Regions from separate parts of the Homo sapiens genome. Here region 2 is linked to region 1. The links come from fine-mapping of genetic effects on gene expression. A gene starts in region 1. The other region holds a variant in brackets. All regions are shown on one strand. Distances are from middle to middle. Region 1 holds the start of CLUH (CLUH binding protein of NUMT mRNA). Region 2 holds the start of MIR6776 (microRNA 6776).

Region 1 (16,101 bases):
TTTTGTTTTTTTTTTTGAGACGGAGTTTCGTTCTTGTTGCCCATGCTGGAGTGCAGTGGCACGATCCGGGCACACTGCAACCTCTGCCTCCCAGGTTCAAGTGATTCTCCTGCCTCAGCCTCCCGAGTAGCTGGGATTACAGGCACCTGCCACCACGCGCAGCTAACTTTTTGTATTTTTAGTAGAGATGGGGTTTCACCATGTTGGCCAGGCAAGTCTCCAACTCCTGACCTCAGGTGATCCACACGCCTTGGCCTCCCAAAGTGTTGGGATTACAGGCGTGAGCCACCATGCCCAGCCCACGGCTCTGTTCTTTAACCCATGGGCCGTGAAGTTGGCAGATATAGGTGTGCTGGCCTGAGAAGCAGATCTGTGCTCCAATCCTGCCTCCATGAGCTCATCCGTGACACAGGGACCCTGGCATGGATGGTGCTGCCTGCCTCTGCCTCCGTGGGCCCTCCCCCGGGCAGGCTGTCCAACTTCCAGACCAACCTTCCACCACACGCAGCACAGAGCCCTCCTGCAGCCCCTCGACGCTGCGCAGCTCCGAGAAGTGGTCCAGCACGTTGCCATCCAGGTGCAGTGAGAAGCAGGTGCGGTGACACGTGTCCTCCCGGTCCATGAGCACCTGGTGAATCTCCTGCACCATCTCCTGGGGGGACACCTGCAGGGAGAAGGCCCCGCCCACCCCGGTGAGAGAGCACGTAGCGGGGAGAGAAGGCCCCAACCGCCCCGGTGAGAGGCCACGTAGCGGACAGCAAGGACAATATCCCCTTGTCCCCAGCCCAAAGTACCTTGGTCCCCAGAATAAATGCCCCAAATACTCGAATATCGGCTATCCCACTTTCTGGCTTTTAAATCCAGGCCATGTCCACACATGCCATGCCCTGTGTGTGCAGCCTGGAGCCTGGCCCACCGACTCGGCCTGCAGACCCAGAGCAATGCCCGAGCAGAGAAGGGAGATGAAGAACAGCGGGACAGAAGACGGCAGGCTCGCCCCCGGCCTTGCCCAGTGCTAAGGTGCCTGGGGCAAATGGCTTTCCCCTTCCAGAAGGGGTGCTCTGGGGCCCAAGCCTGCGGGTGCCGAGACATACGACGACCCTGTCTCGTTCCCCACTGAGTCACCGGCTTGCAAGACCTCCACGCTGGCTCTGCCCTTGGAGATAACCCAATACTACCCTCCCCTCTGGCAGATGGTAAAATCACGGCCCAGAGAGAGGTGACTTGCCTGAGGGCACAGAGCAAGAGGCTGGGGAGTCCTGGGATGCCAACACTTCCCAGCCACTATCACTCCCCTCCCCACATAGGGCTGGCAGGCCCAGCTGGTTGCTGTCCTCTAGCAATGGGGCAACGACCTGACCCTGGGCTCGATTCCCACGTCCACCACGCTAGCTGAGTGACTCTAGGGAGGGCACGGGATCCTCAGTTTCCTGCCACAAAATGGGGCCGGTAGGAGCACGAGCAAGGCTGAGCTTTCCAGCTCACCCTCCCCAGCAGGCTCAGGCCTGGCCCCCAGCACCCGTTCCTCCATCTTACCTGCAGGGAGAAGGGCTCGATCCCAGGGGCGAGGATCTTCACAGAAAAGCCCGTGTCCTGAATGACAATGACTTCCTGGCCGGTGGTCTCATCTCCCGGGCCGGCCTCGTCAAGCCCATTTTCCCTGGGTGGCTCGGCCGCCGCCGCCTCCTTCTTCAGGCTCTCTGGGCAGTCCCCGTTTAAGAGCATGACTGATGGCAGCTCTGCGGGTGACAAGAACGGGTCAGAATCAGGCAGCCTCGCTGGTCGGCGGGGCTGTCCGCCTGACCCCACACGGGGACACGTGCCTTCTGGAAAGGCATCTGCATGCCCTCGAGAGTCCCAGCCTCACGGTCGCGCCTCGCCCTCCGTGCACCTGCAGGCCACTTCCACACCCAGCCGCCCCTCCCAGCCACTGTTCCCTGGCCCACTGTGGTATGGCTTGCACCTGAACCCATGTCCCAAACCACTCTCCCCAGGGTCACCAAAGCCACCCTTCAAGCCAAGCCCGAGGGTCTCCTCCGGCCCTAACACACCTAGCTTCCCAGCAGCAGTTCCCCTCTTCCTCTCCTCTTCTCTGACCCCACACAGTGCCCTTGCCCCTCCCTCTCCAGCTCCATCCTCTTCCATCCCTCCTGAGCTGTGGTCCTGGGCTGCAGGGGGGCTGCAGGGGAGTGCCTAGGCCCAGCCTCTCCTGTTTCTGACCCCACCCCCTCCCATACACTCCTGCCCCGTGGCTCACACGGCCAATCCTGTCCTCTCTCCAGCCTTTTGGACCAAGGAGACCGCTGCCTCCCAGGCATCAACATGTGGCTGTCCCTGAGGCATCACTGAAGCCTCGTCTTGCAGGGACAGAACTCATCTTCCTCCTCAAACTGGCACCTGCTCTATCTAGTCACCCACCCTAAATCTCCCAACCCACCCACGGGACCCGGCCTCTGCAGCCACTGCCCTAGGGCAGGCATTTCCTCTATTTCAGCAGTGCCACCTGCAACCCTCCTAGGAAGCCCACTGCTTACAAGACCAAGCTTCTCAGGCCAGCGCTCTCAGGCACCCACCTGAAGTCAGCCTCAGCTCCTGCCTGCTCCCTGCTGAGGTCTAAGGACACCACACCATGCAAGCCTGGTACCGCCCACAGCCCTCCCACCGCCCTCCCACCGCTGTGCTTCTGTGTCTGTGCTGCCCCTGACATCCCATTCTGTACAGCAAACACTGACTCACCCTTCAAGGCCTAGGAGAAATAAACCTTTTCCACAGCCTGCCCAAATGACCCTTAATGGCAGAATCACACTCCCTCCCCCTTTCATTCCCAGAGACATTCGGCTGCACCCAGGGTGGCGTCCTCACCAGCAGCTCTACCCACCACCTTCTATCTTGCCCAGGCTCAACAAAAAAGGCAACAAATAAAGTACTTACTGCAAACCTCTAGCTACATCCAATATTTGAAGACAGCACCCAATCCACATGCTCCAGGGTGGGGAGCAGGTGACAAAACCTTGCATTCCTACCCAGGCACCAGTGGAACAAAGGAGAACCCCCTGTTCCGCTGAGGAGCCAAGGATCGCCTCTCAGTAACCCTCCAGCAGACACGGGCCTGCCTGGGCACCCATCTAGGAGATGAGGACCTTGGCCCCCAGGATCTGTCCATGGGCCAGGCTCACCTGCCTGGCTTGGCTTGAAGTTCAACGGTCCCAACTCTGAGGAGTGCCTGGGTTCCCTTCCAGAAAGAAGAGCTCGCCCAGCTCTGCCCATCCCATCTAGACCCCACCTCCCCTTCCCCACCCGGCTCTCAGGAGCGGGGACAGGTGCCTTTCCCAGAACTGTGTGGTCCCAATCCGGACCCACCAGAAACACGGAGCAGGAGCCTCAGGGAAGGGATGAGGCCAGTACGGAAAGGCAGAGACCGGGGGGCCTGGAGAGAGTCGCTCCCTTTCCCTGGATCCCCACGAGCAAACGAGAAACAGGACCTCTAAGAGCTCAGAGTCTCTTCCCCCTTACCCCAAAGAGGGGTATTTGAAGCCCAGAAAGGCTCGGAGCCTGGCCTAAGGTCAACCAAGTCAGAATGGGCCCCAGACTCCCTCCTGCAGCCCGCACCCTACGCCGCGGCACTCCCTCAACTCTGGCCACTGAGGACCTTCAGTAACTGTGCATGTCATGGCTCTCCACCCCACCCTCTCCAAGCCTGCAGTGGACTCCCAGGAACCACGAGGATGTACAAAGACCTCCCTTCCAGGATCCAACCGCCCCAGGAAGGGCACCCCCAATCCCCTCGCACGTGAGCAGCCCCACACACCTGCCTGACTCTAGTGACAGAGCAGAAAGACAGCCGGGGCGGTGGTCGGTCAGCTTGCAAACAGCAAGAGGCAGGGCAGCCAGGTGGAGGAACTGCCCCCACAGGGTCCCTGAGAAAGGCTGTGCTGGCTGCCAAGCCCCTGGAATAAGGGGAGAAGCAGGAAGGGCCCCCACCCAATATAGAACAGCAGTTTTGAGCTATGAGATCCCAAAAGTGGGGAGTCAAATACCTAGACAGAGACAGCCTGTGTTCTTTCGCATGTCTGGAATGGGAGGACAGAAAGGAGGGACGACAAGGCAAGGTGGCCGCGGCTCCCACTCTCCTTCCCCAGCCCAGGGAGACGACCCTCAGGGGGTACCTATTCCCTATCCCGTTTCAAAGGAATGCAGCTGGCTCCCAAGGGGCCTCCTCTCCCCAGGACAGCATGTTTTACCCTAATCCTTCCTCCTAGGAACCCCGAAGGTCTCCCCACCCCTGGATGAAGGCTGAGCGATCTCCCCCGCAGGCAGCTGGCTGGCTCACCAGGTCCCGGTGCTCACCTGGTGCAGTTGGCAGCTGCCCTCCCCTCGGCTCTGGAGTCTCAGGATGGCCGTGGCAGCAAGGCAGCCAGCTCTCCAGCTCAGCCCCAGCATTGCCCGGGTTCCTTGTTCCAGCCTCTGCCGCTACCCTTGCCCTAATGCAGCCAGTCGGCCCGGGGCTGGAGCTCCGGCTGGCTTCGGGTTTCAGTGGGGCCAGGCCTGCCATGGCAGCCCCAGGAAGGGCACACTCCCCCTGCCTGGCATCCCGCTCAAGGTCGGCCAGAAGGACGGCTGTGGGCCAGGAGAACCCGGTGGCCCCAGGACCCCAGGGGGAGCTGCTATCAGCACTCAGGCCCACCTCCCTATGCCCCCTAGAGAGGGGGTCACTGCCGGCAAAGCCGCTAGGGGGATCGGAGAACCCAGAATTTGGGGTACCTGGACCCCTCAAGATTGAGGGCCTAGGAGACTGGCTGGCAGGGGCAGGGCCCAGCAAGGGGGTCCTCTCCTCCGCTCCCATCCCAGTGGGGGTGAACAGGACCGCTTCTGCCAGCTGCCGCCAACAGCTGGCACAGACCCGGGTCCAGGCCATAAGGTGGCTGCCTCTGCCCACCAGTCCCAGACACTGAGCACCCCACTGTCCCTGGGCCAAGGGCCTGGCTGGGACCTCTGGCTCCTGCTGCCCCCTGCAGGTGACCTGGCTGCCAGCCCCTTCCTGGGAGTCACTGGTTCTGGTGGAAGGGAGGGGGATGGGCCCCCAGCTTCCCAGAGGACAACTGCACCCGTGCCCCTGGCCTCCAGGCTCCATCAAGAAGCTGGCAGGCTCCATCTTCCCTTCCCAGCAGCCCCGGCTCTGCCAGGAGGGAACCAAGTCTCTCCCAGGGGAGAACAGAGCTGGCAGCAAGAGGCCAGTGGCCGCACGGCGGGGGAGGAGGTGCCCAGCTGGCCAGGGCGCCTTCCCAGGGCCTCTGACATGCTGCCAGTGCCCAGTAAGGGCTGCCCCAGCATCCACCCTACCCAGGGTGGGCGGGAGCCAGGCTCTCACTCCATCCCCTCCCCTCCAGGACCAGGGATCAGGCAGACCCTGGGCTGCTTCACAGCCCCCATGGAAGGTTCTGGGTCTCACACAATGACCAGAGGAGAAGGACCAGGCCTAGACAGAGCCCCTCTGCTCCTACCCTCTCCTGAAATACACCCTAACCCTCCGGAGAGAGGGGTGGGGCAGGGCAGCCTGGCAGTGACCCCAGAGAAGTGTTGACAACCACCTGCACTCTGATTACCACAGAGCCAGGACTCACGCTAGGCCCAGCCCACGGCAGCTCCCTAAACCGCCGTGCCAGCCCATCTCACCTGAGGAAACTGAGGCTCCAGAAGGCTAGGAAGCAGCTGCCCAAGGTCACAGAGGCAAGAGGAGCCAACCCAGAGCAAGAAAAAACCAGGTGTTACTATCACATTTGGGATTAAGTTTAAAAAAAAAAGGAAAGAAAAAACAGGAGTGTCAGACGCCCAAGCCCATGGCTTTTGAGTCACTCCCACTGAGCGCGGGCTACCCACCCGCTCCCACCGACCTGCTCCCGCCGACCCGCTCCCATGGACCCGCTCCCACTGACCCACTCCCACTCAGCGCAGCCCACCCACCCCCTCCCGAGGGGCCCGGCAGCACCCACAGGTAGGCTGCACCTGCCTCCTCGTCCAGGCCTCAGCCTCTACTCGGGGGGGGGGGAGCAGAACTATCCCAGTCACAGCACTCCCCAAGGCCTCTACACCCTTGGGCCAATACTCCCTCCTCTCATAGTCCAGGAGCACCTCTGAGGATGTGAGCTTTAGGGGAGGGGAAAAGGAGGTCTTCTGCAGAGCGGGAGAGCCGTGCCCCAACAGCACTCTGCATACACGCAAACTCAGATGCTAGTGAAGAGACAAAGCACACCCTTGCCCCGGCCTGGAGGCGCCGGGAGCTCAAAGGCGGCAGAGAGGAGGAACTAGAAAAGAAACTTAGGCCTCCCAGAGGACCTGTGTGCTGCCCAAGCCAGGCACAATCTCACTCAGAAGACTGTGCCAGGGCCAGGCCACGCCCCAGCCAAGGCCTCAGCAAGTGAGGCTCCAGCAGGAAGTAGGGTCCGAAAAGGTGCATCACCCGTCCCGGGAGCCCAGGGCTTCAGGGAAAGGCAATGGGGCGGGCAGGCGGCCTATGGAAGAACCTACAGACCAGGCACCTGTTTGCCTCCTTCCTGTCCCACCCAGGCCAGAGGCAGGCGTTCAGGGCCTGAGGACAGTTCAGAGTTCCTCAGGCTGCTCTCCCCACATCCCATCCAAGATCCTGTTGCGGAGCTCCCATAAGCCCCTAGACTCCTTCCCCAGCTGCCAGCCTCCTCCTCCTCCCCCTCTGGGCCTCAACTCCAGGGAGCCCTCCCCTGGGCAGAAGGAACCTGACGCACCACTGTGGACCTGAAAAACCTGCCTGTTCTCTTAACCCCTAAAAGCCGCTGTATTCCCAGGAAGGTAACCAACCCTTGCCCCCGACCCTCAATGGCCTAGATCAGCTCCTTCCTAAGGGGGCTGAAGAGCCTTCCAGAGCTGGATCTCAGAGGTCAGAAGCCTTGGTTCTGATGCTCAGGTGGGCCCCAGCTGGGGGGTCTTCATTAAGGCTCCTTCCTTCTTTCAATAGATCCGGGCTGGCTGTAACGTAAGTCCTAGCTAGCTGTACTACCTTCCCAGGGACGTAGGAGCCCATGTCCTGCCCACGAGTATGCTCCCAGTTTCCCCAAAACAAATAGCTGTGCCCTTCCCTGACTCAGTTTACCCCCGACAGAGCCCCCCCACCCCCAGCAGAGTTAGGAAGGGGCTTCACTGACTCCCTCACAGAAATCCTCCAACAGACGCTCGTCAGCCCCCTAGTTCTCAGCACGGGATCCAAACCAACACGCCTGTCCCAGCTTCCTCTGGGCCAGGCCACGGCAGCCTTGGCTTGCTGGCCATGAGCTGGAATCCAAACACTTCCCTTAACAGCTAAATCGCTGTGTGACCTTGGGCAAGTCACTTCGACTCTTCGGGTCTCTGCTAGAGGGGAAATCAGCCAACCTCCTCTCATCCAGCCTGCCCCCACTGATTCAGAGCCACATCAGCACAAAGCCTGGTAGGTTGGGGCGATGAGCATCTGCTCTTCTGCCCAAACCTTGGCCTTGTCTAGACAATCAGCAGTACTGCCCCAGCACCTGTCCCTCACCCCAAGGCAACTCCGCTATGATGGGAACAGGGTCAGAGGGCTGAACGCTGTCCCCATCCTGATTCCCAAGTCAGCCCTGGCGCACTCACTGAAGCTAGGAAGGGAGATGATGAGGCGTTAAGACCACAAGTCCCAACTGAGGACAGTCGACGGAGGAGGGAGGGACTGGGGGACAGGAGTAGCTCTGCACCTCCACTGCCACCCAGAGCAAAGAGGGCCTGAGGAAGATGACGACTGAGGGCCTGGGAAGGGGATTCCAGCCCCAAGGCTGGAGTCTGAGACACGGTGGAGGGAACAGAAGGAAGAGAAGGGGCTCAGGAGAAAGGGAAAGCAGGCCCCACCCGAGACAAGCTGCAGCCACTGCCACAGTCACCACCATACAGCCCCCATGGGGGATCGCTGGGAGCTTGACTCCACACTAACGACCTTTGCCTTAAAAACAGCAACTCTGGTCTGACCCACTTTTCGCAATAAGGCAGGTTAATGATCAAGTTCTGGCACAAACACTTCCCCCTGCCAAGGAGTTTGGCTCTGCCCCATGCAAAGGCAGACGCCCCCTACACCAGGTCGGCCGAGCAGGCCAACACACCTGAGAGTCTCCGCCACAGCCTGAAGACCTGCGGTTATAGCCTGGCCTCAGGGCATGAACCAGGGACGCCCCTCACAACGCACACCCCGCACCTCGTGCTCTTCCCACAAACCAAGCCTGGGAAGCCTCGAGCGGAGCTTCACTCCCAGGGCTGCAGCCCTGCGCACAGGGGATGCCTGGGAGGCCGCCGCGGAGCAGGTGCCGAAGGGGGCTGTCCCGCAAACGTCGGAGCGACCCCAGCTCAGAGAGCTCCCATGCTCGGGCGCAGAGGGGGTGGGGCCGCCGATTCTTTCGGTCTGCGGCGGCGGCGCACCCCGAAACCGCGTGTGCGCGCACGTGTCCCCGCGATGAGGCGCGCGTGTGCCCGCCGAGGGTGCCAGCCGAGGCTGCCCTCCACGGGACCGCACGTGCGAAACCCGGGCCGCAGCCGGGGGCGACTGTGAAGGTGACCTTCAGCGCGGGGGCGACCCGGTGAAGGCCCCAGCGAGATACAACCGGGCCCGACGCGGAGGGAAGGCGGCGATCCCCGCGGAGTCCCGAACCCGCCCGCCCTGGTCCGGCGCCCCCCGCCCAGCGGCCCGCTGGCCCTGGCCCCGCTCACCGGCCGCGCCCGGCCGCCCCTTGCCCCCGGCCTGCGAGCCGTGTTCCCGGGCGCTGTCGGCCGGGGCGGCCGCCGGCAACTCGTCCGTCTTGATAACCATGGTGGCGGGAGCGGGCGTCCGCCTCGGCTGTCCGCGCCGCCCGCCGCGCCACTAACCCAAGTGCCCTGCGCGCCGCGGCTGCTGAGGGAAGGACGGAGTCACCGGCCCACGTGGTGCGCGCCGTGGCCTTTGACCCCGCCGCCGTTTCCCTGCCCCACCCTCGCGCCCGGCCCAGCCCACGGCGGCCCGCGAGGGACAAAACGCGCCGCGCCTGGTTCCCCGCCCACGGACGCGGTGACTTTCCAGAACGTCTTAAAGGCAACGCACTCTGACTCAAGGCCCAGGGAGGCTGGGCGCCCTCGCGGGGCGGGGCCTCGGGGAGACTCCCTGCTGCTCGCTGCCCGTCGGGCGGGCACTGTGACCTTGGGTGGAGACTGGTCTGGTTCTGCCATGGCTAATCCTCCCCTCTCCAAGGATCCCCTGTTTTCTCTTGCAGATTTGCTAAATGACCGCGCAGTCTGTCATCTGCGGTGTTCGCGTGACCCTCAGCGCCCTCCCCACCCGGCAGGCCCTTTCCCGCCGAATGGGTGCGGCTGGATTATTGAGGGAGTGGAGGGTCGCTTAGGGCACGGGCACGAGAGGCGAGGGCGAGACGTGGCTAATGGGGATCAAGAGTCAGAATGGACCCGCCAAACTTTGCCCCGAGCCAGAACGGGCTCCCTACCCGCGTCCTCGACCCATGGGTCCTCACCTCCAGGCTGGTGTCCTCATTTTACAGTGGAGGAGGCCGAGACCAAGGTCACACAGAGAGCAAGGGGTAGAGCCGGGTCTGACTCCATCCACAGCCAGGACGCTTTAACTCGTATTTTTCACTTGGCAGGGGCTTGGCGGGGACGGAACGGTGAGGTCAGAGAATGCTGCAGAGGGGACATTGGGACCAGGTCTTGCAGTGAGTTGAAGTGCTCCAGGCAGAGAGCGCCGGTGGGTCTTTCCTGGCCAGGCCGCAGGGGGCCTTTGGGAAGCACCCGAGGCCTATAACCTTCGGAGCGTTTGTCAAGCTCTAATGAGAACTGGAAAGCTTCAGCTTCCCGAGGTGGGCTGGGAGGGCCTTAGGTAGGGCCTCGCACAAATTGCGAAGGAAAGCCGACCTTGTTCTGGAGAGCACGTGGTGAGGAAAGCCAGCGACTTGATGTGAGCATTTAAACGGGAGGAAGGAAGATGAGAACTGGTAAGATTCTTCTCGGCCGGGCGGTGCAGCGGCTCACGCCTGTAATCCTAGCACTTTGGGAGGCCGAAGCCAGGCGGATGACTTGAGTTCAGGATTCGGAAGTTTGAGACCAACCTGGGCAACATTTCAAAACCCCCGTCTCTACAAAAAATATTGTTTAAAAAAAGCCAGGTGTAGTGGCACGCGCCTGTAGTCCCAGCTACTTGGGAGCTGAGCTGGGAGTATCACTCAGGACGGCTCAGATTGAGCCCAGGAGTTCCAAGCTGCAGTGAGCTATGATCGCACCACTGCACTCCTGCCTGGGTGACACAGACACCGTCTCAAAAAAAAAAAAAAAAAAAAAGCCGGGCGCGGTGGCTCACGCCTGTAATTCCAGCACTTTGGGAGGCAGAGGCGGGCGGATCACGAGGTCAGGAATTAGAGACCAGCCTGGCCAAGATGGTGAAACCCCGTCTCTACTAAAAATACAAAAATTAGCTGCGCATGGTGGTGTGCGCCTGTAGTCCCAGCTACTCGGGTGGCTGAGGCAGAAGAATCGCTTGAACCCAGGAGGTGGAGGTTGCGGTGAGCCGAGATCGCGCCATTGCACTCCAGCTTGGGCAACAAGAGAGAAACTCCGTCTCAAAAAAAGAAAAAAAAAGTGTGCATATATATATATAGTGTGTGTATATATATATAGTGTGTATATATAGTGTGTATATATATAGTGTGTGTATATATATAGTGTGTATATATATAAGTGTATATATAAAATATATATATTTATAATCAATATATATAAAAGTGTGTATATATGTGTGTATATATACACATACATACTTATGTGTGCGTGTGTATATACGTATGTGTATACACACACTCGTTCCTCTTTTGTTACACAAATGTGCAGAAAATTGTACCTGCTATTCTTCACTCTGATTTTTTTTTTACACGCTTTCAGTAGGTGTTCTCATTCCATTTACGCTGGATAATGTTGTATTGTTTGGTTGTACCATAATTCTTTTAGCCGGTCACCTGACTGATGGGTACTTAGTTTGTATTCATGAAACTCCAGGGTTTTTGAGAATTGTGCCTAGTGGCCCAGTGCAGCTGAAGTTGGAAGCCCGTGCATGTTGCTAATGCTACTCATAATAGGAAGCTCAGTTTTAACCCTGGGGGTTGGGGAAGAGCAGCAAGCCTGGGGTTAGAGAAACAGACACGTATAAAAAGCATCATCCAGCCGAGTGCGGCGGCTCACGCCTGTAATGCCAACACTTTGAGAGGCCGAGGAGAGCAGATTGTATGAGCTCAGGAGTTGGACACCAGCCTGGGCAATATGGCAAAACCTCATCTCTACAAAAAATACAAAAATTAGCTGGGTGTGGTGGTGTGCGCCTATAGTCCCTGCTACTCAGGAGGCTGAGGTAGGAGGATCACTTGAGCCCAAGAGGTTGAGGCTGCAGGATCTCGCCACTGCACTCCAGCCTGGGCGACAGAGCAAGACCCTGTCTCAAAAAAAAAAAGAAAGCAAAGAAAGAAAAGAAAAGAAAAAAAAATCATCCTCTGATCACATTCTCCATAGTCTGGTGGTCTGACCTCTGACCACACATTAAGCAGACTGATTCTTGCTTTCACACAGCTTCCACCAAAGTCTTTTCATCATAGTCTTTTTTTGGGACAGCATCTCGCTGTGTAGCTCACGTTGGAGAACAGTGGCAAGATCTCAGCTCATTGCAACCCCGCCTCCCGGGTTCAAGCGATTCTCCTGCCTCAGCCTCCCTTGTAGCTGGGACTACAGGCGCCCGCCACCATGCCCGACTAATTTTTGTATTTTTAGTAGAGAGGGGGTTTCACCATGTTGGCCAGGCTGGTCTTGAACTCCTGACCTCAGGTGACCTGCCCACCTTGGCCTCCCATAGTGCTGGGATTACAGGCGTGAGCCACCGCACCCGGCCTCCATCATAGTCTTAACAGCACATACTCCCATTTTCCCCAGCTATTTCCACCATTGCCTATAACAATGTGCTATGGTTAAGGTGATCGCATAGTTTATCATTAAAACCAGAACACTTTTGAGAGTGCAAGTGGAACCTATTAATAATGACACAGGGGCAATAGGCATAAATTGAGACCCTCTTGGCCATACTGGGATGTCTGGGTCTTGGGTGAGGAGTCCAGCTGCTAGACCCGGGGACTTTGTTATTTTTTATTTTTTTTTGATATGGAGTCTTGCTCTGTCGCCCAGGCTGGAGTGCAGTGACGTGATCTCAGCTCATTGCAACCTCTACCTCCCGGATTCAAGTGATTCCCTGCCTCAGCCTCCCAAGTAGTTGGGATTACAGGCATGCGTCACCATGCCCGGCTCATTTTTGTATTTTTAGTAGAGATGGGGTTTCACCATGTTGGTCAGGCTGGCCTCGAACTTCTGACCTCGTGATCCGCCCGCCTTGGCCTCCCAAAGTGCTGGGATTACAGGCATGAGCCACCGCGCCTGGCCGACCTGGGGACTTCTTGAAGGCAAGAACCATAACTTATTTATCTGGGTGTTCCCAGCATCTTTCCAGAGCCCAATGCATGGTAGGTGTTTAATGCACATTTATTTATTTTTAATTTTATTTTTAGAGACAGGGTCTCATTCTGTTGCCCAGGCTGGAGTGCAGTGGCATGATCACGGCTCACGGAAGCCTCCAACTTATGGGCTCAAGTGACCCTCCCGTCTCAGTTCCCTGAGTAGCTGGGATTACAGGTGCACACGACCATACCCCACTTAATGCACATTTGTTGACTGAGTGAATGATTTCAGTGTAGAAGGTGCCAGGCCCTGAGGGCTCCACAGGATGTGGGGGGGCAGCATTGCTGGCAGCCTGGGGTTTCACCTTTGAGCCCCCCATTATTTATTTATTTATTTATTTTTTGAGACGGAGTTTTGCTCTTGTTGCCCAGGTTGGAGTGCAATGGCTCAATCTTGGCTGACCACAACCTCTGCCTCCCAGGTTCAAGCAATTCTCCTGCCTCAGCCTCCCCAGTAGCTGGGATTACAGGCATGCGCCACCAGGCCTGGCAAATTTTGTATTTTTAGTAGAGATGGGTTTTAGTAGGGTTTTAGTAGAGTTTAGTAGGGTTTTAGTAGAGATGGGTTTAGTAGAGGTGGTTTCTCTATGTCGGTCAGGCTGGTCTCGAACACCCGACCTCAGGTGGTCTGCCGCCTTGGCCTCCCAAAGTGCTGGGATTACAGGCGTGAGCCACTGTGCCTGGCTGAGTCCCCCATTATTTATAACAGTTGGCTTTCCTTTCAGACACTCCTTTTGTGTACTGTATGCTTTGACCTTTGTGTCTAGAACTTCAGATCATTTCCATAATGCCTGACTGAGACCCACCAGCCTGAGCCCACGGAGGATGCCAAGCGGAGGCACCTCTCCCTATCCTCCTCAGGGTCAGTGAGCGTCCGTAAGTGCCTACCGGTCAGCATGGGGATCGGTGACCAGTTTGTCCATGGGCCTAGTGACGAACCAGTCCCAGCAGCTTTAGAATCTGCAGTTTAAGGCCGGGCGCAGTGGCTCACGCCTGTAATACCAGCACTTTGGGGGCCAAGGCAGGTGGATCACCTGAGGTCAGGAGTTCAAGACCAGCCTGGACAACATGGCAAAACCCTGTCTCTACTAAAACTACAAAAATTAACCTGGTGAGGTGGCGGGTGCCTGTAATCCCAGCTACTTGGGAGCTGAGGGAGGAGAATCACTTGAACCCAGGAGGCGGAGGTTGCAGTGAGCCAAGATCATGCCACTGCACTCTAGCCTAGGTGACAGAGCAAGACTCCGCCTCAAAAAACAAAAACAAACAAATAAAATAATCTGCAGTTTATCTTTGGTGGATCCCTTCCCCTTTCCCTCGCAGGGTCCTGTTGCACAGCAGGCGTCCTTAGGGCTACCTCATGGCACTCCTGAGCACTGCAGTTTTCCTATCTTTTGGGTCCCTGCATAAAGATAAGGAGGAGGGTTATCTAGTCTGAGACCCAGCCTGCATAATTAGCCCGCTCAAAGCCTCCCACCTCCCTAATTACTGTTATCATGGATACACCCACTCAGCAGGCCATTCCTACATTCCTATTTCCCCCTCCTTTGCACAGTTCCCTAGGGGGCTGGAGAGGTGATGTGGGAACCCAAATCCCTTCGACTGCGGCACAGAGTCCCCTACTTCCCTGGCCAATCTCTGGGAACCCCTAGAAAGGAAGTTCTCCACCTCCCTCAACCCCAAAACTGCATGGGCAGAACTGCCAGGAAGGAAGGGGTAACCGCCAGCAAGATGCCCTGAGCTTCAGTTTCCCCATGTGTAAAATGAAGGGGTTGCACAGATGATCTTTAAGAGTTATCTGAGGCTGGGCGCAGTGGCTCTCGCCTGTAATCCCAGCACTTGGGGAGACCCAGGTGGGCAGATCACTTGAGGTCAGAGGTTCGAGACCAGCCTGGCCAACATGGTGAAATCCTGGCTCTACTAAAATACAAAAAAAAAAAAAAAAAAAAAATCTGCTGGGCATGGGTGGTGTACACCTACAATCCCAGCTACTCGGGAGGCTGAGGTGGGAGGATCACTGGAGCCCGGAAGGAGGAGGTTGCAGTGAGCCGAGATTGCGCTGCTGCACTCCAGCCTGGGTGACAGTGAGACTCCCTCTCAAAAAAAAACAGCCGGGCGGTGGCTCACGCCTGTAATCCCAGCACTGTGGGAGGCTGAGGCGGGCGGATCATGAAGTCAGGAGATCGAGACTATCCTGGCTAACACGGTGAAACCCCTTCTCTACTAAAAATACAAAAAATTAGCCGGGTGTGGTGGCAGGTGCCTGTAGTCCCAGCTACTTGGGAGGCTGAGGCAGAAGAATGGCGTGAACCCAGGAGGCAGAGCTTGCAGTGAGCCGAGATGGTGCCACTGCACTCCAGCTTGGGTGACAGAGCGAGACTCCATCTCAAACAAACAAACAAAACAGTTATCTGGTTTTGACATTCCATATCTCCACCCTGAACTGTGACTCTGGGATGGGCTTAGTCAAGCATCCCCAGGGGTCTGTCTGTCTGGGGAACTCTAATGCCTGTGCCCTGCCCTCCCCACACTTCTCTTTCTTTTTCTTTTCTTTTTTGGGACAGAGTCTCACTCTCTTGCCCAGGCTGGAGTGCAGTGGCATGACCCCGGCTCACTGCAGCCTCTGCCTCCCAGATTCAAGCGATTGTCCTGCCTCAGCCTCCAGAGTAGCTGGAATTACAGGGTTGTGCCACCATGCCGAGCTAATTTTTGTAGTTTTAGTAGAGATGGGGTTTTACCATGTTGGCCAGGCTAGTCTCAAACTCCTGGCCTCAAGTGATCCGCCTGCCTTGGCCCCCCAGAGTGCTGGGATTACAGGCATGAGCCACTGCGCCCCGCTCCCTTTCTTTTCTCGTTTTCTGAAATTGTACATGAGACTCAAGAGTCTTGGGCAGATGTTTATCCAAGGCTGGGCCTTCGGTTCCCTAATTGCCCCAGGAGATAAAAGGCTAAGAACAAGAAGAGGCCTGGGCCAGGCTGCCTGGGCTTGCTGCAGGTCCTGGTCCCAGCCCATCCTGGGCCCAAACCTGAGTCTAGAGGCTTAAGCAAGAAACTGAGTTCAAAATAAAAAGTAGGAAAAAACTGGCCAGGTGTGTTATTTTCCACGTGGCCACTGCATTTCAGCCTGGGCAATAGAACAAGACTGTGTCAATATATATATATTTTGAGTATACATATACATGTGTGTGTGTGTTGTTAGCTAGGCCTGTACTCTTCAGCTGCTCAGAAGGCTGAGGTGGAAGGATCCCCTTGAGCACCAGAGTTCAAGTCCAGCCTGAGCAACACAGTGAGACCTTGTCTCTAAAAAAAACAAACAGCCGGGAGTGGTGACTCATGTCCCAGCACTTTTGGAAACCAAGGGGGCGGGTCACCTGAAGTCGGGAGTTCAAGACCAGTCTGATCAACATAGTGAAACCCCATCTCTACTAAAAATACAAAATTAGCCGGGCGTGGTGGTGCATGCCTGTAATCCCAGCTACTCAGGAGGCTGAGGCAGGAGAATCCCTTGAACCCGGCAGGCAGAGGTTGCAGTGAGTTGAGATCGTGC
Region 2 (12,460 bases), 23 kb before region 1:
GAATCCAAATTGTATACTGTAAATTTACATACGTTGTCTAGAAGTACCATAGGGTTTAAAAACCTGGGCTGGCATTGGTCACACCAGGCCTAAGAAGGCAGAAGTTGAATCAATTGAACTAGGGCACTAAACTGAATAGTTGACAGTGTCATTTTATGTTGGATTATTAATTCCTGTTTTTCTTTCTGCTATCTGTTGGTGCCTGACTTGATGGCCTCATTTGGGGAAAAGTGGTGGTTATTAGGGCTTTTTCTGAAATGTGTATCTATGTAACATCACTTAAGTGTGCTTAATAAATCTTCTGTAAGGATTTTAGATGATAAGGCTACAATTCAGAATCTTCTGAACCATCTATGTAATGAATGGGGATTATACATTGGAATTTTTGTCATGACACATTTGCCAAATCAGTAGGATATATTTGTTTTGGCAGCCTATCACGCAGAGGCTAGTGGTATATTTATGTAAGAAAATGACTGTAAATCTCAAGAAAAATCTCAGCAGCTAATAGCAACTCATTTATTTCATTTTGGTCTTAATGCTTTGTAAACAGGTCAAAAAATACTGTCATACTCTAAGCTTCTATTTTCCACACTGGACATACTTCTAGTTGTATTCTCCATACTATTAGACTGTGTAGTGATGTGACTTCCAAGTAGAATTTAATCTCCCCATTGAGTGTGTCATGGTACAAATCACTATTCGTTTTTGGTGTTTTTTAGGGATGTGCAATGTGCATTACATAATGACAGAAATACTGAGAAGGTTCTGTGTGCCCATTTGAAAGGAGTGGGAGGAATACAGCAGTTTGTTTTTCAACATGAATCTGATATTGATTTAAACTGTGTTTCACTTACAAGTTTTAAAAAAATGACAGGGTTTAATGGAGCGTGCATAAAAATGTACTGTTTTCACCTTTTGTTTATATGTAAATGTTTGTAAGTATATGGGCCTATCTGTAAGTGGATAAGTCTGTATGTGTGTATCATACACATCAACCTCCATGTCCTTAGTCCTGGGTTTTTGAAAAAGTGCTAAAACGGACAAGTAGAATAAATGTTGCTGTGGAATGCCATGCTTTAGAACAAACCCTTTTTGATCTTAATGCTTCTGAAAACTAGGTCTGACTCTGGGGATTTTTTTCCAGCCGAAGGAAAATCACTTCCGTTATGTCCCCCTCTAATTTAGCCGCTCGACATTTTACACAACCCGGATATGTTGTATATTTTGACCCAAAGTTACAGGTAGGTTTAAGAGAATTTTTAGCCATGACTTTTGGAGCACTATTCCATTGTCAGTTATTAATAAAGAATTCCATTGCTTAGCTAACCAACAGGTTTTTTTTGTTTCCAAGAGAGTTATTTGAAAAGTTAACAGAACAATGAGATAACAGTGACAGTTTAACAAAGATAAAATTCTGAACTGCGTTTTATTCATTTGTGTACTATGTGATTTTTTAAATGTCCCCTTTAGTATTTAATGGAAAATTGGTTCCTGCAAAAGACAAAGGGTGAGAGTTAGCGTCCTGTAGATACACACAGAGACTAGGCCGTATATTAACTAGAAGCAGCTTTATGTCTAGCTTGTGTCTTTTTGTTTGTTTGCTTGTTTGTTTTTAGATTCCTGAGAGATGTCTCTGGAAGGGAAAGTTTTGAGAACTAATGGCTATTTTTGAGGACAAAAATTACATCTTAAGCTAATTCCTTAAATACATACAGTAGGTGAATTTTCAGGACAATATTGCCTCACAACCCTGCTTACATTGAAAAGTCTTTTTCCCTTAGCTCTTCTGACTGGATTTTTCTACAAAAACTATGGAAAATATCTTTGTTCTTGTTTGCTGCTATTTTCTGTCCTATTTTGAGAAATATAAATACATAGAAATGGTGCATCTTAACATTTGTTTGTACATGTATAAATGTCTTGTATTTTAATTCATTTTTAGCATGAATTGTTTAAGGGTAAGCCACAACATCTAGAAATCACTCATAGATATTGAACAATAAAGGAGAATGGTACCGATGCAGGAGGAAGCAAGCGTGTCTTCCCCTGCAGCACACAGCGACTTGCGTTGACAAAGGAGGAGGAAACGATTACTCTGTAAACAAAGTTATCCTTACTTGGGAGATTGCCACAGCCTGCTGCTGAGTTGAGTTACCAGACATCCTCCATGTGAGAAGCAGCGAACATTGAATCTCAGGGATGGCCCACAACTGGGTCCACATGTAATGAGCCCTGTTTAATAACGAAGGGGTGGGGGAGAGCAGTCCGTCTACAACCTGGAATCAGATTTGCAAAATTTCCTGCACTGCTGTCTGACACTGTCCTGTTGATGCCCTTTCTGACTGTGTTCTCTGTTTTCTCTGTCTGCTGTCTAACCCTGTGCCTTGCCTGGGATAAGGACAATGATGAGGTTACTGGTTTGGATTGTAAGTAGAGGACTTTTATTAATTGGTTTAGAGGTTCACTGCTGCTTTGTCACTTTCTCAATCAAATTGGCCACTTAAGAAATAAAGAGCTGGTAGAATTGCATCCTCAGATGATTATTGACTGTGTGTGTGTGTGAAAACAGACATTCCAGTGCCACCCAAATATATATCTGTAACGTGCCCAAGAAATCCTAGCTGCGCTCTTGAGAGTGCATGCCATGGAGACTGGTTTAGACACCGCGTGGAGCCTAGTTGCCTGTTGTCACGGCATCTTGCACTTTAGGAGACTAAGACCGTCCTGGTTCGTCTGTGTGTGGTGTGACCAATGGTGTGCCCAGAGCACTACTCTCAAAATCACTAGTGTTAGCAAGTCGTCCCGGGCTGGGGAGCGTTCGCCGTAGTCTTTGGAAGCTTTGGCTTTAGATTTACCAAGCCCCGCCTCCCCGCTGCCAGTGCCCTGCTCTCCCGTTCGCCTCTTTCTGTTTCTGTGTGAACTTTCCCGGTAATATCACTCGTTAAATAGGTTTTCTTTAAACTTAATTAAAGAAAAACTATTTAAAGGTAAAGGATATTTTGTTGACATCGGTGGCTCGATCATCCTTAAGCAACTGAAGTTAAAATTGTTGAAGGAAAAGGCACTTAAATTGGTTACTTTCATGTCCAGCTGTATATAAGTCCAGTGTGTTCATCTAGATGACGCAAAGAATCTCCTGGTAGAGAAGCGACATGTAAAAAACTGGTGGAAAAAGGTTTTGGATTTTTTTTCCAGTGGGGTGGGGGGAGGGCAAGCTGGATTTACAGGTCACGGCTGGACTGAATGGGCCTTTTTATCTTCCCACTGTATCATGGAAGTAGCTGCTTGCTTGTACTGTCCATCCTTCAGGCATCCCTAAAGCTCACTCTGAAGATGTTAGAGACAAACACAAACTCTTCGAGTTAAAGTTGATCCTGACACTGACATGAAGGCAAGCCTTGATTTCGTATGAACGTTGCTGAAGTGGTAATTGAGGAAAACAGTTCCCCAGATTGTTAAGAGTTCACTGAAGATATTGACACAATTTTAAAAAATCAGTAAAGGAATGTATATAATATTGCTCTCGTGTTTTACAGTAAGATTTGTTGCTCTCAGACTGTGTAAAACAAAATTTATTCATGTTTTCTGCATATTAAAAAATCTTATTGTACCAACTGGTAAACTATTAAATGCCTATAAAACTAGATGTGATTTTTTTTTTTTTTTTTTTTTTTTTTTTTGTCTTCCTTTGCACAGGGGAAATGCTGATAGAAAGTGGGGCTGTGTGTAGCTCCAGTCACAAAGAGTGACACGAATCGGTGTCAGGGCAGTAAGGCCTCATGAGCTGCTTTCCTTCAGGGCAGCACCCGAACTGGCTTTGCTGTCCCCCTTCCCCCGGGTGGAGGAGGGAGTGCCTCAGCCTGAGCCTTGCCATGGCATGCGTCTGCGGCACAGGCCCGCTCTCCCCAACCCTCCCAGCAGCCCGTTCTGACTGTGGCTATCGCTGTGGCCAGAGAGCCAAAGCCAGGATGGCTGGTTACAGGCCCAAGACTAGACTCTTGGGGACAGAGTCTAGAGATAAGGGGCCCTGCCGGGCGCGGTGGCTCACGCCTGTAATCCCAGCTCTTGGGGAGGCAGAGACGGGAGGATAGCTTGAGCCCAGGAGTTCGGGACCTCCCTGGGCAATATAGCGAGACCCCGTTCTCCACAAAAAGGAAAAAAAAAAGATGGGGCCCTACCCCCTTTGTTCTGTTAGCCTCTAATCTTGCTCAGTGGTCTTGGAATCATAAAAGTAAATCCTTAATACTGTTTTCGATTTTGGTTGAAACATACAAAATAAGAGTGTTCATCTTTGTCCCAGAAACCCCAGCTCTGCACTTTACACATGGCTGTATCTGTGGTGTATTCAAGGTGCCCTACAAAGGACAGTTTGGTGATGTGCTGGTTCCTTTCTTACAGCCCAGCTGTTTTCCTGCCTCCTATTGGGAGTAGTAGCCTGCCCCAAAATAGGAGCTTGGCCCAGAGCAAAAAAGGAATGGGCCATGCGCAGTGGTACGCCTGCAATCCCAGCAATTTGGGAGGCCGAGACGGGCAGATTGCCTGAGCTCAGGAGTTTGACACCAGCCTGGACAATACAGTGAAACCCCGTCTCTACTAAAAATACAAAAAAAATTAGCCAGGCGTGGTAGCAGGTGCCTGTAGTCCCAGCTACTTGGGAGGCTGAGGCAGGAGAAACACTTGAACCTGGGAGGCGGAGGTTGCACTGGGCCAGGATTGCACCACTGCACTCCAGCCTGGGCAATGAAGCAAGACCCTGGCTCAAAAAAGCAAGAAAAAACAAAGAAATTGGCCTGAAGTTAGTTCCCTGCACTTTTGCAGCTTTTCCATTTCCTTGCAAGACTCTTCCAGGCTGAGATCCAGATGATAGGGCCCCAGGGGCAGAGTTCTAGCGTTAGTATCACTATCCAGAAATGCTGTTAGCTGTTCAAAACCTGGCAAGTAACTCGCTGGCTTGTAACTGCCTCAAACCTCCTTCCAGGAGTCATGACTGTGTATGGCCTTTGATGCAGGGGGAGGGTAGCTGGCTGTGGCAGCTCTGTCCCTGCCTAGCCTGGTGAAACCTGACTTGTGTGCAGACGGTTCTTAACTGCTGATACACCAGAAGCTCTAGGACAGGCATCCTCAAAGTGTGTTCCCTGGTTCAGCAGAGCAGCAGCACCTGGGAGCTCACGCCTCAGAACCCCTGAGTGGAAGCGGTGCAGCCTGCTTGCTTGCTTGATTCACAATCTATTATAACAAGCCCTTCCAATGACTGAGGCAGGCTCAGGTTCGAGAACCACCGAGCTAAATGATTCAACTTCTCACCAAAGAAACTTGGGCACATCACTGGTCTCTTGGCCCCGCAGCTCAGGTCTGGATCCCGATCTTTCCTCTTTCATCCTTTTATTTATTTTTATTTTTTGAGACAGAGTGTCACTCTGTCATCCAGGCTTGAGTGCAGTGGGATGATCTCAGCTCACTGCAATCTCTTCCTCCCAGGTTCAAGCAATTCTTCTGCCTCAGCCTCCCAAGTGGCTGGGATTACAGGCGCGTGCCACCGTGCCCGGCTAATTTTTGTATTTTTAGTAGAGACAGGGTTTCACTATGTTGGCCAGGCTGGTCTTGAACTCCTGACCTTGTGATCTGCCCGCCTCGGCCTCCCAAAGTGCTGGGATTACATGTGTGAGCCACCGCGCCCGGCCTATCCTCACTTTGAACATGTGGAGTTTGTCCCTTTGTGACGATGTCCTATGATCTTCATTCCCACTTGGTCACCTGACCTTGACTGACTCTGTCTCAAAAATAAAATAATGGCTTACTCCCACAAATGAGGGCATTTCACCTGCCATTCGAGGATGGCTGGGCCTGCACTCTGTGGGGAGGGGGGGGTCCTGATTGATTTGGTAGTTTAGACCTTAGAGGTAGGGGAGAGGAAAATTTGGGCCACATCAGGATGCCTTACTCTCCAGCTGCAGGATATATAGGAATTTCCCCAATTTGTGTATGTGGGTGTGTGTGTGTGACAGTCTCACTCTTGCTGCCCAGACTGGAGTGCAGTGGCGTGATTTCGGCTCACTGCAACCTCAGCCTCCTGGGCTTCAAGTGATTCTCCTGCCTCAGCCTCCCGAGTAGCTGGGATTACAGGTGTCCGCCATCACATACCTGGCTAATTTTTGTAATTTTAGTAGAGATGGGGTTTCAGCATGTTGGCCAGGCTGGTTTTGAACTCCTGGCCTCAAATGATCCACCAGCCTTGGCTTCCCAAAGTGCTGGGAATACAGGCGTGAGCCACCACGCCTGGCCCACTTTTTAAAAAGTTGAAACCTGTCACCTAAAAGAAGGGAAGGAGAAAGAGTGGATTTCACACCTAGGGCCTCCATTTGCTTTATGAAAACAGCCCCTTGTCATTTGGGTCGTCAAAAGATGTCTGAGGGCACTAATACGCTTAAAGGATCAGCCAGGAAATAGGGGCCTCTCAGGTGACAAGGAGGCACAACCCTAACCAACCCCGATCTGTTCTCAGCTTCACAGGAGGCCCTGTTTTGAGAGGTGCATGAACATGTGGCTCACGTTCAACAACAAACACTCAGGAGAGGGGACAGAATGTTCAGGACACACCGGTGAGAGCAAAGGAAGCTGCTGCTGGGCTGGGGCTGCTGGGAAGTCTGAGAGGTTCTGTAGCAGGACACTCACTCGCTGGTGGCTGTCCCCGGGTGTCACCTAAAACCGCCAGGTCAGAAGCACCTTTTCTCCGGTTGGCTCAGGAAAACTGACAGACTCAGGGATGGAATTTTTTTCTTTTCAGAATTTCCAAGACGTACAGATCTCTCCAAGCATCCCAAAAGGCGTATGTTCCTGGTGGGGCCGAGGGCCTGCTCTTGGAGACAGATGGCGAGCAGCGGTCAGCAGCTACTGAGAGCTCAACTTCCCCTCTAGAGACAGGCTCTGCCGCTCAAGTCCACCTGGGTCTTGGCTCTCTGAATCCTGTCCGAGGGTGGCGAACTTGAGGCCCTCCTCCCTGCCCCCAGTGTCTCACCTCTGGGCAGTGCTGCCCACCCTCCTTCCTACCTCGAGTGAAGAGACAGGGGCAGGTGGCCAGCCAGGGGGGTGTTCAGTGACCTCACGGGTCCAGCATGCACAGGGCCTGGCCCCACAGCCCAGCACCCCTCCCCACCTGGCCTTCACAGTTTCTTCTGCACCTGGTGACAGGTGACATTCACCTGCACGACACTCCCGCGAACCTGGTGACGGACTGGCAGCTCGGTGAATTCCAGCTGAGTGCCTGTGATTCCACCCCCTTACCTCCCACTCAAGTGACAATGTAAGCGTGACCTCGAACTTGACCTCGTTTGTATCTATTCCTCTCCCAGTCACATTCCTGTCAGCCCTCACCATCCACCCAGACCGGGTTACAGAACACACAGGTGAGCCTGGGGCCGCAGGTTTCAAAAACTCACTTTATTCCAATGTGAAATGAGGACGTGATGGTTTAAAAACAAGAAAAAGTTCTTGCTCAGCGGTGGGGATGCTCTGCTTGCCCGCTCACGCCCATCCCCCTTGAAACAAGGTGTCTGGACGGACCACACCCATAAGCGGCTCTCCGCAAACCCAGGCAGACGCCCGTCTCCTCCGGGTCTCAGGGTGGCCACATCCTCCCCCACCAGGGCTCTGACAGCAGGCACAGAGCAGCAGCACGGGCAGGGTGGAGCGGGAGCAGCGTGTGGGGGCCCCCGCCACCCCCAGAGCTAGTCTCAGACCAGGAAGGGAGCTGGGCACCAGAGAAGCGACATCACGTCGGCACCTGTAACTCCCGGGATCCGTAATTGGGCCCCGCTTCCCCCAGCC[T/C]CGCCCCCGGCCCACTGTGCGTTCGGCAGCTCAGGTTAAAACTGAGGGGAGGGATACATTCAGACCGCAGGCCCCAAGGCTGCGCCCAGCTGGGTGCAGGGAGTAGGGAGCCGAGTCAGAGCCACCCACTGGGCTCTGAGGGCCCAGCAAGCCAACCCCGACCCCTCCGTTCGGGAGCAGCAGCCAGACCACGCCAGTCACAACGGCGGCTCCCGTCCCGCCCCAAACTAAAGTGCACCCCAGCCCTCCAGCCCCGCCACAGAGCTCCGGCTCCCCACCCCTCCCCACCGGGTTTTTCGGCCTAAACCCTGAACTTTCAGACAGGCTGGGCCCGGGGGTGGTGGCAGCCAAAGCAGCAGCCATCATGTCGACCATACAAATGACCTGAGAAATCCCGTCTGCGCGTCACCCACTCAGGAGTCACCCACTCAGGACTGGCTCGGGCTATGTACAGGGGAGAGGAACGGTCAACACTCACAGCCAGGGGCGCACTCGCACACGCCGGCCGGACGGCGGGGGCCGAAGCAACACCTGCCCCCCAGCCGGGAACTGATGGCCGCACACGCCATTCACGTGTCTCCAATGGGGCCTCTGCATCATCTATTCATTGAACCAGCGCAAAAACACCTTCTGCGGGGCAGGCAGGCCAGGCTCCCAGGAGGACACGGGGGTGGGGTGGGGTGAGACGTGGAGGAAGAGGGCCTTGCTTCCTCTTCCGCCCGCAGGCTCGCCCCCTTCTCCCGCAGTCGGGCTCCCTGGTGACGGGGCCGCTGGCTGGCTGTCCGTCTGGCTCCCTCTCTATCCCTGCACGCTCGGAGAAGGGTCCTTGGCAGCCGGGGGCTGGGAGCCCAGGTCTCCTGGGGCCCCCGCTGGCGCGGGCTCGGTAGCCATGGGCTCCTCGGCTCTATCCCTGTTTCTGCTGGCCTCCTGGAGCTGGTGCCGCCGCGCCACCTCGGCTTTCAGATTCTCCAGGTCTTTTTGGCTGAGGATAAGGGTGGGGATGGAGGTGGCTCTCAGAGGAGTCCTGGGGGCTCCACCCGCCTCCCGGCTTTCCTGTGGGATAAGCTCAGGCTCTGCGCTCTATTCAGTGGGGAATGTGTGTGAACAAGCGCTTCCCTCCTGAAGGCGGAAGGTCCCTGAACACGGAGAAGGTAAGGACCCCGCACCTGACCCGGCCTCGGGGCTCCCCTCGCTGCCCTCGGTGGCCTCCCTCCAGCGCAGGGGGAGGAAAGCGGAGTTGGGGGGCTGCTGCCACGCCTTGCTGACCAAATCCACTCCCCACAGGAGGCCACACTGCTTGTGGCCACCCCGGGGAGCCCGGGGCCTGCTCCTCAGCCCCCCCCCGCCGCAGGATGGGAAGCGTGGGGAGGGAATGAAGCCGCTTCTTAGGGACTGGTGGGAAAACGCCAAGATACTTTGTGTGAAGCAGAAACACCAAGGTCTTCACTCGCGGAATGCGAGGATGCTGGGGAAGATAAGCGGGGCGGGCCGGGCGCGATGGCTCACGCCTGGAATCCCAGCACTCTGAGAGGCCGAGGCGGGCGGATCGCAAGGTTAAGAGTTCGAGACCAGCCTGGTCAACGTGGTGAAACCCCATCTCTACTACAAACACAAAAATGAGCCGGGCGAGGTGGCGGACACCTGTAATCCCAGCTACTGGGGAGGCTGAGGCAGGAGAATCGCTGAACCCGGGAGGCGGAGGCTGCAGTGAGCCGGGATGGCGCCGCCGCACTCCAGCCCGGGTGACAGGGCGAGACTCCGACTCACAAAAAACCCCCAACCGGGAGACACTCGAGTGGGGCGGAGGCCTCACCTGAGAGGAATGAAGAGGATGCCGTTAATGACGTTCAGCTGCTCCAAGACGCTGGCCATGCTGGGGGCCGTGAACTGCGGGGCGGGGAAACCAGCGGTGAGCGGGGCTCCCGCGCTCGCCGGGCCGGAGGGGCCGCTCCGCCCCGGACTCACCTTGAGGGGCGGGATGTTGGCGCTGGAGCCGTTGCGGTAGATCTCGTTCATGGTGCGCTGCAGGGCCACGGCCTGCTGGGTCAGGCACTTGAGGTACTCGGAGCTTTCCTTGGTCTTCTCATGGTCCTCGCCCAGCTGCGGGGAGGCGGGAAGGGATCAGGCCCCCCCGTGCCCCCGCGGCCCCGCCCCCGCCCCGCCACGCCCCCGCCCCGCCCCCGCCCCCGCCACGCCCCCGCCGCGCACCTGCGTCTTGTAGATGGTGTAACCCTCCTTCTCGTGCTGCAGGGCCGACCGGAACTCAGCTTTGCTCTCGTAGACTCGGGCGACAAGGTGGTGGCTGCCGGGAGGCGCGGCGCGGGGCGAGGGAAGGGCATAAGTGGGCTGGGTGTGGGGGCCTGACTCGGGGGCCCGGGGTCTCCCGTAGATCCCTCCCTGGAAGCCACCGAGGGGAACAGCAAGTCCAGGGCTCAGGGAAGAGGGGGAGGTCGAGAGAAATTTTCTCGGGTGGAGGAAGACAGGAGCACTGGGTCTCTTCCCCGCCCCCGCCGGCTGCCCCGCAGGCCTCCGCCGGCCTTGGCGTTTGGACGGGCGGCCCCTCACCTGAGGGCCACCTTGAGGGCCTTGGGCCCGTGGTACTTGGTGCTGACGGCCAGCGCGTTCTCCAGGAAGCGCAGCGACAGGTCGTACTCCATCACCCCGTGCAGCACCAGCCCGATGTTGTTCTGGGGGCAGGCGGTGGGGGGCCCTGGTCAGCTCCCGGTCCCCTGGGATGGAGCTGGGTCCCTGCCGCCCCCCCGCCCCAGCACTCACGTCCAGCAGCGCCATCTCGGGGTGGTCTTCCCCGAACACCAGCAGCATGAGGTAGCGGGCGCGGTACAGCAGGCTCAGGGCGGTGGACAGCTGGCTGCTGGCGAAGCAGTACAGGGCCAGGTGCATCTGCGGGCGGGGCGGAGACAGGTCAGGGTGGCCGCGGACCCAGCCCCTCGCATCCCCCGGCGCGGGCGGCACTCGCGACTCACGTATTCCTGGATGGTGTTGGGGTGCTCGGTGCCCATCACCCGCTCGCTCATCAGCACCGCCTTCTGCTGGTTACTCAGGGCCTGGGGAGAGACAGTGGTGGTTGCCGCGGCGTGGGAACCCCCACTGCACCCAGAGCCCGCCTGGCCCCGGCCCAGCAGCCCACGGTGCCGCTCTGCAGGCTCCTGTCCCCTCCGGCTGCGCCCAGCACAGTGCAGCAGGGGGGAGGGGGATCAGCAGCAGCTGCTGCCACACCTTGAAGGGCAGGTCACGCTCCACAGAGAGCTCCACACACCCATGTCTTACACCCAACAAAATCTCCACAAACACCCAAATACAAACCTAAAACTACTAAAAATGTTACAAAAAAAAAAAAAAAGCCTGAGCAGGGGTGGGTCCCTTGAGGTCAGGAGTTTGAGACCATCCTGGCCAACATGATGAAACCCCATCTCTACTAAAAATACAAAAATTAGCTGGGTGTGCTGGCTCACGCCTGTAATCCCAGCTACTCGGGAGGCTGAGGTGGGAGAATCGCTTGAGCCCAGGAGGTTGAGGCTGCAGGGAGTCGATATCACGCCACTACACTCCAGCCTGGGTGACAAAGCAAGACCCTGTCTCAGAAACAAACAAACAAACAAACAACCCACCCATTTATAAACAGAAGAAAAAACAGTCCCTTTGCAGGGAGTAGGGATCCTAAGACATGCTAACCCTGAAACAGCCCTGGCCAGGCAGGGCACCCAGAACCCCACCACAGCCTCCACCAGCCCCGGCCAGGCAGGGCACCCAGAACCCCACAGCCTGCACTGGGCACAGAGGACGTGGGAGCTCGGTGGCATGCTTCCTGCCCACTCACGGAGTCTCAGGAGGCGTCCTTGCTGACGCCCTGTGGGGGGGTCCCCTGCCATCGCCTCCCAGAACTGACCTCACCGCAGCACAGGGTGCTCCTGAGCTCTCCCGCTCGGGACACAGTTACAGAGGGGTGGAGCCAGGGGTGGCCTGGGCAGAACCAGCGACTTCCTGGGGTCTCCCTGGACTCCACCCACTCCTCCGTCAGGGGCCCCCTCACTCCCCATCCCCCAACACGAGGCCAGGCCTTTGCTGCCACAGCCCAGAGGGTACCTCTGCGTAGTCGCCCATGATGTAGTGGAGGCGGGCGAGGAGGCGCAGGCAGGCGCAGGTCTCCACGTGCATGGCTCCGTAGACGTTGTTAAACAGGTTCAGGGCCTCATTGATGAGCTCACAGCCCTCCTTCAGGAAGCCTGCAGGGCACCCCCAGGGGTGGCAAGGTCAGGACGGGCCATGGGGAACCCCCACCTCCACCCAGCCCCACCTGGCCACACACCCTGCTGCACTTTGGCCTGCCCGCTCTGGAAGAAATGGAAGGCATCCGAGGCCTTGGGGTTGACGTGCTTGACCACGGGGAAGATGTTGAGCACGTCCTCCTCGGTGAACGCGGGCTTGTGGCGACTGTCGAAGCTGTACTCCTTCAGCAGGACCTGGGGGGCAGCCCCCCCACCACAGGAAGCCTCAGGCCCAGGTTCAGCGGGTTGGCACCTCCCAACCCACCAACGCTTGCGCACAGACGGCTACCGTGAAAAAGCCACTTCCCCTGTGGCCCTGGCCAGGAGTGGGAGCCTGCAGCAGGGAC

The links.
Region 2: its variant is fine-mapped to the expression of CLUH in whole blood (TOPMed, PIP above 0.99). The same link has a PIP of 0.9 or more in blood mononuclear cells.

The regions. Positions count from the first base shown.
Region 1 is chr17:2,702,826-2,718,926 of GRCh38, forward strand. It overlaps CLUH (CLUH binding protein of NUMT mRNA), which reads right to left and starts at 8,939. Exons shown (of 26, transcript NM_001366661.1): 1 at 8,737-8,939; 2 at 1,537-1,739; 3 at 493-664. The coding sequence starts at 8,836. It overlaps LOC105371592 (a long non-coding RNA gene), which reads left to right and starts at 9,484. Exons shown (of 2, transcript NR_136412.1): 1 at 9,484-9,574; 2 at 9,657-10,008. RefSeq lists enhancers at 3,928-4,824, 6,041-6,240, 7,498-7,577, 8,412-9,308, 9,309-10,204 and silencers at 8,818-8,937, 9,068-9,247.
Region 2 is chr17:2,681,969-2,694,428 of GRCh38, forward strand. PAFAH1B1 (platelet activating factor acetylhydrolase 1b regulatory subunit 1) reads left to right here. Exons shown (of 11, transcript NM_000430.4): 11 at 1-3,647. It overlaps CLUH (CLUH binding protein of NUMT mRNA), which reads right to left. Exons shown (of 26, transcript NM_001366661.1): 18 at 12,155-12,308; 19 at 11,932-12,071; 20 at 10,812-10,892; 21 at 10,603-10,728; 22 at 10,393-10,514; 23 at 10,036-10,129; 24 at 9,793-9,927; 25 at 9,641-9,714; 26 at 7,419-8,809. The coding sequence ends at 8,626. It overlaps MIR6776 (microRNA 6776), which reads right to left and starts at 10,951; the gene lies at 10,893-10,951. It overlaps LOC105371490 (a long non-coding RNA gene), which reads left to right and starts at 6,257. Exons shown (of 2, transcript NR_188262.1): 1 at 6,257-6,602; 2 at 6,788-7,319. RefSeq lists enhancers at 9,242-9,750, 9,751-10,258. The variant T/C (reference allele first, on the strand shown) is at 7,828.